3 linked regions of the Homo sapiens genome follow. The protein of the gene in region 1 interacts with the protein of each later gene in a pairwise test. Each region holds a gene or a part of one and is shown in the gene's direction. Other genes may lie near its edges.

Evidence for each region.
Region 2: the proteins of FBN3 (region 1) and NUDT21 interact in a two-hybrid assay, tested with the Homo sapiens proteins (one large-scale study listed by BioGRID and IntAct).
Region 3: the proteins of FBN3 (region 1) and ANXA7 interact in a two-hybrid assay, tested with the Homo sapiens proteins (one large-scale study listed by BioGRID and IntAct).

The regions. Positions count from the first base shown.
Region 1 is NC_000019.10:8,066,858-8,070,057, reverse strand, and holds part of FBN3 (fibrillin-3 precursor), read left to right. Parts: intron 1-3,200.
Region 2 is NC_000016.10:56,431,483-56,434,332, reverse strand, and holds part of NUDT21 (cleavage and polyadenylation specificity factor subunit 5), read left to right. Parts: coding exon 1-2; intron 3-1,599; coding exon 1,600-1,621; 3' UTR 1,622-2,850. UniProt on the Homo sapiens protein: Component of the cleavage factor Im (CFIm) complex that functions as an activator of the pre-mRNA 3'-end cleavage and polyadenylation processing required for the maturation of pre-mRNA into functional mRNAs.
Region 3 is NC_000010.11:73,404,059-73,407,558, reverse strand, and holds part of ANXA7 (annexin A7), read left to right. Parts: intron 1-3,500. UniProt on the Homo sapiens protein: Calcium/phospholipid-binding protein which promotes membrane fusion and is involved in exocytosis.

The DNA.
Region 1 (3,200 bases):
GTAGGATTTACTACTGTATTGGTACCCCTTGGTACTCAATAAGAGTGAGTGAGTGGTTGTCAGGGTCCCAGGGCAGAAGTAGATCAAGACAGAGAAGGGCTAATTTTTGTATTTTTAGTAGAGATGGGGTTTCGCCATGTTGGCCAGGCTGGTCTCAAACTCCTGGCCTCAAGTGATCAGCCCACCTCAGACTCCCAGAGTGCTGGGATTACAGGTGTGTGCCACTGTGCCCAGTCAAGGCCAGGATTTTGAGACCAGCCCGGGTAACATAGTGAGACCCCCTCCACCTACAAAAAGTAAAAATATTAGCCAGCTGTGGTGCCATGTGCCTGTAGTCCCAGCTACTTGGGAGGCTGAGGCGGGAGGATTGCTTGAACCCAGGAGTTCAAAGCGGCAGAGAGCTGTGATCACACCTCTGCACTCCAGCCTGGGTGACAGACAGACCCTGTCTCAAAAATAGGGCTGTATTGTGCCTTTGCCTGCAATACCCACTGACTGCCAGCAGGGGTCAGTAAGAGCATAAGTCTTAACAACATTCCGTGGGAAGAAGGCCTGAGATCTCCAGAACTGAGGGGCTGGGGAACAGGAATAACTTTCACTTGAATGCAACAGCAAAACACTCCGTCGGCATGTAAATGAGGCCAAACCAACACAGTGCTCCCTAAAACAAAGGCAAAGAAAACACAGATGACTTTCTGTGGGGTTGGATACGTCACCCAGCCCTGGGGTAGCCTGCCATTGAGGCTCGCTGTCTTATTCAGGGCCCTGTCCAGCTGCCAAGACCAGGAAGGCACTTCAGAGGAGCTTAAATAAAGAAGGGTTTGTCATTGGCACACAAGGGGCTCTCAAAGAGGGCCAGATGCAGGAAGCACAGCGGAAGCTATCAGGCGGCTCTTCTGTCTGGTCCTTTACGCTCTCCTCTCCAGCCCTGCTTGGCATCCCGTTTCTCTCACTGTCAGCTCTGGCATTCTTTTAGGGGCTGGCTTCTGCTGAAAGGCCCTTGTTCCTAACACCAGCCATCCCAAGACATTTCTGAGTGACCTTAGGGCTCTGGGTCGCAATGTCATCTGAATAATCCCCTGGCTGCTGGGTCTCTGAGAGCAAATCTTTGATACCTTTGGCCCAGGCTGGCAGGGGTCTGAGCAAGGTCCCTCAGCTGGGACTAGGGGTCTGTAGTGTGTAACAGTGGCCGTTTCCCTGCCTCTCTCAGAAGCAGCCTCAGCCTTATGCCACTGAGTCTACAGATCCAGCTGACCTTGCGGATGAACAACCAGACTTGAGATGCCAAGGGAAGCAGTATTTTCCTCCACTTTATTTTTTTATTGATTTATTATTTATTTATTTATTTATTTATTTGAGACAAGGTCTCACTCTGTCACCCAGGCTGGAATGCAGTGGCGCAATCATAGCTCACTGCAGCCTTGAACTCCTGGGCTCAAGCAATCCTCCCGCCTCAATCCCCCAAGTAGCTGAGACCACAGGTACATGTACCACCACACCTGCCCAGCTAATTTTTGTATTTTTTGTAGAGACGGGGTTCACCATGTTGCCCAGGCTGGTCTCAAACTCCTGGGCTCAAGTGATCCACCCACTTCAGCTTCCCAAAGTGCTGGGAGTACAGGCATGAGCCACCGTGCCCACCCTATTTATTGATTTTTTTTTTTTTTGAGACGGAGTCTTGCTCTGTCGCCCAGGCTGGAGTGCAGCAGCGTGATCTCCACTCACTGCAAGCTCCGCCTCCTGGGTTCATGCCATTCTCCTGGCTCAGCCTCTGGAGTAGCTGGGACTACAGGCACCTGACACTACGCCTAGCTAATTTTTTTTTTTGTATTTTTAGTAGAGATGGGGTTTCACCTTGTTAGCCAGGATGGTCTCAATCTCCTGACCTCGTGATCCACCTGCCTGAGCCTCCCAAAGTGCTGGGATTACAGGTGTGAGCCACTGCGCCCAGCCTATTTATTGATTTTTAAAATCAATTTATTTTCTTTTTTTTGGGGAGCAGGGTCTCACTCTGTCACCCAGGCTAGAATGCAGCAGTGCAATCATAGCTCACTGCAGCTTGAACTCCCAGGCTCAAGGGATCCTCCCACCTCAGCCTCCCTAGTAGCTGGGACTACAGGTGTGCAACACCACACCTGGTTAATTTCTTGTATTTTTAGTAGAGACAGAGTTTCACCAGGTTACTCAGGCTGGTCTCGAACTCCTGGGCTCAAGCAATCTGTCCACCTTGGCCCTCAGCCAACTTCATGTCTTTTCGTAGCACATCTTGTCACTTTTACATTTTCCATTTATTTGTCTACTATCTGCTTTGCTTTACTAGAAGGTAAACTCCCTGAGGGGAAGGATTTTTATCTGCTCATTGCTAAATCCCCAGTGCCTCAAAGATTGCCAGGAATTCAGTAGGTGCCTAATAAACATATATATATTTTTGAGACAGGGTCTCAGTCTGTTACCCAGGCTGGAGTGCAGAGGTGTGATCACAGCTCACTGCTGCTTCGAACTCCTGGGACCTCCCACATCAGCCTCCTAAGTAGCTGGGACTACAGGTGCACACCAGTACTAATATTTTCACTTCTTGTGGGTGGATGAGGTCTCACTATGTTGCCCATGCTGACCTCAAAATCCTGGCCTTGGCCAGGCACAATGGCTCACGCCTGTAATCCCAGCACTTTGGGAGGCTGAGGTGAGCGGATCACTTGAGGCCAGGAGTTTGAGACCAGCCTGGCCAACATAGTGAAACCCTGTCTCTACTGAAAATACAAAAATTAGCCAGGCATGATGGCAGGCACCTGTAATTCCAGCTACTTGGGAGGCTGAGGCAGGATAATCACTTGAACCCAGGAGGCAGAGGTTGCAGTGAGCCGAGATCGTGTCACTGCACTCCAGCCTGGGCGACAGCAAGACTCCATCTCAAAAAAAAAAAAAAAAGAAAAAGAAGAAGAAACAAAGAAATCCTGTCCTCAAGCAATCCTCCTGCCACAGCCTCCAAAAGTGCTGGGATTATAGGCATGAGCCCCTGTGCCCATCCTATTTTTTTAGATTGAGAGGGTACAGGTTTGTTATTAATAAATGGATATATTGCATGATGAGGCAGTTTGGGCTTCTGCTGATCCCATCATCCAAACAGTGAACATAGTTCCCAATAGGTAGTTTTCCTTTTATTTATTTATTTATTTGTTTTGAGACAGTCTTCCTCTGTT
Region 2 (2,850 bases), on another chromosome or scaffold:
AGGTACAGAAAGTTGAACATTTTTTGGTTCATCCATATTAACTGTCAAATTTAAAATATTCTGAGCCACTTGGGAAGGTATAGTTCATGAATTTTGGTCTTTAAGGAAACTAAGAAAGTAGATAGACTCTTAGATCATGTGCAAGCCATAGATTAATTGTGACTAATACCATCCCCAGACTCTTAAGTTTCGGCATGACATTCTGGTATTTGTGCAACTGCTCTTCCCTAATTCTGATATTCTCAAGAGTTAAGGTTGATGTCTTTATTCAAAAAAGAGATGGTTAAATAGCAGTCAACAGTGTGTAAATATGAGCGGAGTTGTCTGTATTAAAATGTGGCAAATTGGCTGGATGTAGTGGCTCATGCCTGTAATCCCAGCACTTTGGGAGGCTGAGGCGGGGGTGTATCACCAGGTCAGGAGTTCGAGACCAGTCTGGCCAAGATGGTGAAACCCCATCTCTACTAAAAATACAAAAATTAGTGAGGCGTGGTGGCCAGCGCTTTTAATCCCAGCTACTTGGGAGGCTGAGGCAGAGAATTGCTTGAACCCGGGAGGCAGAGGTTGCAATGAACTGAGATCACGCTACTGCACTCCAGCCTGGGCGACAGAGTGAGACTCCATCTAAAAAAAAGAAAAAAAAGGTGGCAAATCGAATATCTTGGTGTAATATATTCGTTTTCCTTTTTTGAAACTTACTATATTTTGGCCCAAATTGAGGCTTGTGGGATTAGGTCCTGAACTTTTACGTGGGGTTTGAATCTTTAGGCAGTTAGAGTGATAAGAAATGCAGTTTTTTAAAAGTTGACTTGTACTGGTTGAGGTCTCTATTAGAGCCAGCCATATATAGGAATTGCAGAATAACATGGTGGTTATGAAAGTAGATTCTGCAGTCAGTGTTTTGGATTTGAAGCCCAACCTCAGTACTTGCTGGCAGTGTGACCTTGAACAAACTATTATACCTATTTGACTGTTTCTTCTTCTGTAAATGGGGATAGTAGTCTCTACTTCAGAGGATTATGAGGACCAAGTGAAATAATGCATATAAAATGCTTACAACAGTGCCAGTAATCTGGTACATACTTAATAAATGTTAGTGAAATTGGCCTTTTGTGAAAGCTTATTGAGTATGAAATTGCTCTTTCTACTTCGTCACTAATCAAACCTTATCTTTTGCCACTCCACTTTGGCCTCCTGATAGGTTACAAGTTGAAATGCATATGGGGGGAAAAGAGTCATATTATTTATTCAAACACCTACTTGTCAAGTGCAGGAACTGTGCTGAGTAGTCAGAGTATAAGGACATGTAGAAACTTTTCCTGCCTTAAAGAACTTATTAGTGGATAATTAATCAAATTTATAGTCTTAATTTTTTTTATTATAAGTATTCAACAAGTGTTTTTAGTGTGTAAGATGTGACCAGTGAGGGAAAATTGGTGTAGAAAATGCCAAACGTGGTAAAAAGGCATTCGAAGGGGAAAAAAAGAAAATGCCAGACATGCTAAGGGAGGGCAGAAACATCCAGATAAATTTATTTATCTAATATGGAAAGTAGTATGTACTGTCTTTAATAAAGGTATTGTTCTTTTTAAAATTCAGGTTCAATTTTATTTACAACTGAATTCCTGCGCAGTGGAGAAGTAAAAGAAGCCGCTTGTCTCTGTGAGCACAGCTATATACAGTGTAGAATAAATGTGGTAGAAAAGTTTTTTTGGTTTTATCTCTTTTGCGATCCCTAAATTGCCACCTTTCTATTGTTTGAATAGTAAAATTAATATGAAGAACTAGATAGTGGTGTAAACAAATGTGATAATGTTTATTTACTTTCGGTTCTGCTCATACTTTTTTGTACAACATTAAAGAAAATGGACTTTTTTTATTTTAATTTCTCATTAAACTTCTAAAATTCTTATAGGTGAGGATCATTTTTCCCCCCACCTTAGGATGGTGAATGTTGCAACACAATGACAGGTTTAAGTCAGTCAAGTTTATTGGACCCTTGCTTTGATACCATTCTTGGGCACATACTCCAAGATTGTATTAGATTTTTGTGATGAAGAGCTTCCATTACTTCTGAAAACTATATTTATCTGAGTGAGTCCAAGGTGCAACTCCTAAATGAATTGTGTTGCAGAGAACTCCCAGTATAATTCACTGACCAGTACATTTTATAACCATCCAGGCCTTGGTTTGCAAGCAACAGACCTTAAACATACAGGAAACTATTAAAATTGGCTCGATCAGTAGTCATAGGAATTGGTATAAGAAGAGACTCATTTAGAGCTCAGAGTTTTCTTCACATAATGGGGGTATTAATTATTTGTGCTGTTGCGAAATTATGTGTCTTATTCTTAAAGCCATGGTAAAAATAGGGATCTGTGAAGGAAATTTCTAAAATTGGATGTATTAGGTTTTGAACTCTGAGATTGCACAAATATTCAATTAACTTGAAGTTGTGTACATAGAGAAGAAAATTTGGTTTTAGCAAATGACAGAGCCTTCAAAAATATTTTTGGAATAATGTGAATCAACCGAAAACTGGGGGCAAGGCAGAGGACAGGTTTTCTCAGGTTAAGAGAAAAACGAAATTTTAAAAACTTTAAAAAATACTGATAAATTCGGATCAAATTTGGGGGAATAAAAAATATTAGAGCAAAGGAGTTTGCTGGTTGTGTCATTATTTAATGATCAAAGTATAGCATGTATGCCTTATTACAGACTTGTTGACTATAGGCTTAATGTAAAAAGGAATCTTGCCAGATGTAGCTACTTAAGGAAAAAAGGGTTTTTAATAGAAATGAACTTTTGATTAGTATGGTGCCAGTCACAGGGCTATTTTCCTGAATATTG
Region 3 (3,500 bases), on another chromosome or scaffold:
TTAGGTGTAGATCCAGAAATCCCAAAGTATTCTGGTATCAGAGTGTGAATCACAGACCTGCAGAATCCATATCACCTGAAAGCTTTAGAAATGCAGAATCTCAGGCCCCATCCTGGAGCTACTGAATTAAAATCTCTATTTTAACACGATCCCTAGGGATTCATATACACATTAAAGTTTGAGGCCAGGTACAGTGGCTCACGCCTGTAATCCCAGCACTTTGGGAGGCTGAGGCAGGCAGATCACTTGGGGTCAGGAGTTTGTGACCAGCCTGGCCAACATGGTGAAACTCCGTCTCCATTAAAAATGCAAAAATTAAGCAGGTGTGGTAGTGCGCACCTGTAGTCTCAGCTACTTGGAATGCTAAAGGAGGAGAATCGCTTGAACCCAGGAGGTGGAGGCTGCAGTGACCCGAGATTGTGCCACTGCATTCCAGCCTGAGCAACAGAGCAAGACTGTCTCAAAAAGAAAACATTGAGAAACACTATTTTAGTCAACTACGTTGTTCAAAGAAGGAAGAGAGGAGACTTGAGCTAGATAGGAGGGGTGAGTAAGCCCAGGCTTGAGGGCCAAGTCAGTTAATGATAAGAATGGCTTAAGCAAAGGAATGCTGGGAATGGTTCAAGTGATAGAGATTTCACGTTGAGGGTTAGGTGTTGGTAAGAAATGAGTTAAATAGATAAATAGAGGGTGGGTGTGGTGGCTCATGCCTGTAATCCTAGCACTTTGGGAGGCTGAGGCGGGTGGATCTCTTGAACCCAGGAGTTCAAGACCAGCCTGGGCAGCATGGCGAAACCCCGTCTTTACTAAAAATACAAAAAATTAGCCAGGTATGGTTGTGTGCACCTGTAGTCTTAGCTCTTCAGGAGACTGAGATGAGAGGATCATCTGAGCCCAGGAATTCGAGGCTACAGTGAGCTGATGTCACACTACTGCACTCCAGCCTGGGCGATAGAGCAAGAAACCATCTCAAAAATATATGTATAATAATAATAATTGGAGCCAGTACTAAGGAGACCTGTATATCAGGCCAATTAATTTTCATTTGATACTCCAGCAGTAGTCATTGATGATTTTTGAGCTGAAGAGCAATTTGCTGAAAGAGCAGCATTTTAGGAAAGTTTAGCTAGTGACAGTGTCTGAGAAAATTGGGAGGGTGACAGAGTATAAGCAAGAATATAAACAGAGGAGGAGTTTTAGTAAGACAGGCATCAAGTGATGAAACTTGGTCTAAGTATATGACCATGAGAACAGAAATTACAGAAGAGGCATTTCAAAGGATGGATAGAAAAACACTGGTTTTGGCCGGGCGCAGTGGCTCATGCCTGCGATCCCAGCACCTTGGGAGGCCGAGGCGGCCAGATCACCTGAGGTCAGGAGTTCGAGACCAGCCTGGCCAACATGACGAAACCCTGTCTCTACTAAAATACAATAAATTAGCCGGGTGTGGTGGTGGGCGCCTGTAATCCCAGTTACTCAGGAGGCTGAGGCAGGAGAATTGCTTGAACCCAGGAGGTGGAAGCTGCAGTGAGCCGAGATTGCACCACTGCACTCCAGCTGGGGTGACAAGAGCGAAACTCTGTCTCAAAAAAAAAAAAGAAGAGAAAAATACTGGGTTTCTTACTATACTGGAGTATTAGGTAATTTAAGTAGTGGTGCTATTGACAGATAAAGGATGTTAAGAGTGGTGTGGTGGAGAATGACGAGTATTTTATTATACACATACAGAAAGCCTCCTGATTGACTTCTGTCTTAATCTGCTCCTTAGTCTATTTTGGTGATCATCCGTCTCACAGTTACGTCTCACCTTTTGCCTTGCAAATAACATTGTTCTACTTTCTTGCCTATCTGTGTCTAGCACCTTTAAAAGCCTGGTTTAAACCTTTGATCATTCACTCTCCACTTGTAGCAATGTTTTCTTGTAGATGCCAAAAAAGTGATTACTGACTTTATATAGATGTATTTGCCAGGTATATTATATCTGATCACTAATAGTATTTTAGATTTTTTTGTTGTTGTTGAAATGGAGTTTTGCCCTATCACCCAGGCTGGAGTGCAGTGGTGTGATCTTGGCTCACTGCAACCTCTGCCTCCTGGGTTCAAGCAATTCTGCCTCAGCCTCCTGAGTAGCTGGGCTTACAGGCACATGCCACCACGCCTGGCTAATTTTTGTATTTTTAGTAGAGACAGGGTTTCACCATGTTGGCCAGGCTGGTCTCGAACTCCTGACCTCAGTTGATCCGCCCACCTCAGCCTCCCAAAGTGCTGGGTGTATTACAGGCCTGGGCCACTGCACCCAGCCTTTTTTTTTTTTTTTTGAGACAGTATTGCTCTGTGGCCCAGGCTGGAGTGCAGTGGTGCAATCTTGGCTCACTGCAACCTCCACCTCCTGGGTTCAAGGGGTTCTCCTGCCTCAGCCTTCCAAGTAGCTGGGACTACAGGCACATGCCACCACACCCGGCTAATTTTTTGGATTTTTTATAGAGATGGGGTTTCATTGTGTTAGCGTGGATGGCCTCAATGTCCTGACCTTGTGATCTCCTCAGCCTCCCAAAGTGTTGGGATTACAGGCGTGAGCCACCGCGCCCGGCCCTAATTTTTGTATTTTTAATAGAGACAGGGTTTCACCATGTTGGTCAGGCTGGTCTCTGACCTCAAGTGATCCACCTGCGTTGGCTTCCAAAGTGCTCAGATTACAGGCGTGAACTACTGCGCCTGGCCGTGTTTTAGATTTGATCAGGCTAAGAGGGTATTCTTTTGAATGTTTGTTTTTTTCTCTGTTTATTTACATTTGCTTTAGGTTAATAGTGTTTTCTTCAAATGCAAAAGATATATATATATATATATATAGGGATATTTGTCTTTATCCACACTAGCTCCATTTATTTTACATGAGCCATCTTTTCAACAATGGACAGGAGAGTGTAATGAATCCCCATGTACTCATCACCCAGCGTGAGCAGTTATCAACTCCTGACTGCTTATTATGTCTAAATTCCTGCACTATATTATATAGAATATTCCTGCATATTATTTTGGCATAATCCCTGACATCGTATCGTTTTGTTTGTAAATACTTAATGTGTATCTCTAAAAGATCAGAATACTTGATGAAAATCATAGTACCATTATCACACCAAAAAAATAGTAATGTCTTAACATCACTTGATGTGCAGGTTATTGTTTACTTTTCCAAATGGAAATGAGCACCTTTTGAAGAACATAACTTTCAAACTTTCTGGTACAGACTGCAGTTTTTAAAAGATATTTCCAGTGTTATGTTTGCTGATCAGAAGACTATCAACTTTTGATCACCATTATTATCACAGAATAGATAATATATGAATGCCTCCTTAATCTCAGACTAACCACACTCTACCACCCTACTTTCTTTTTCCATCAGAAAGCATTCTAATTTTAAAATTATTCTAAGTCTAATAAAATTGAGAAAGTAAATGTACTGAAAGTGTTATAATGAATTAATAAAAGCCAAACTTCAT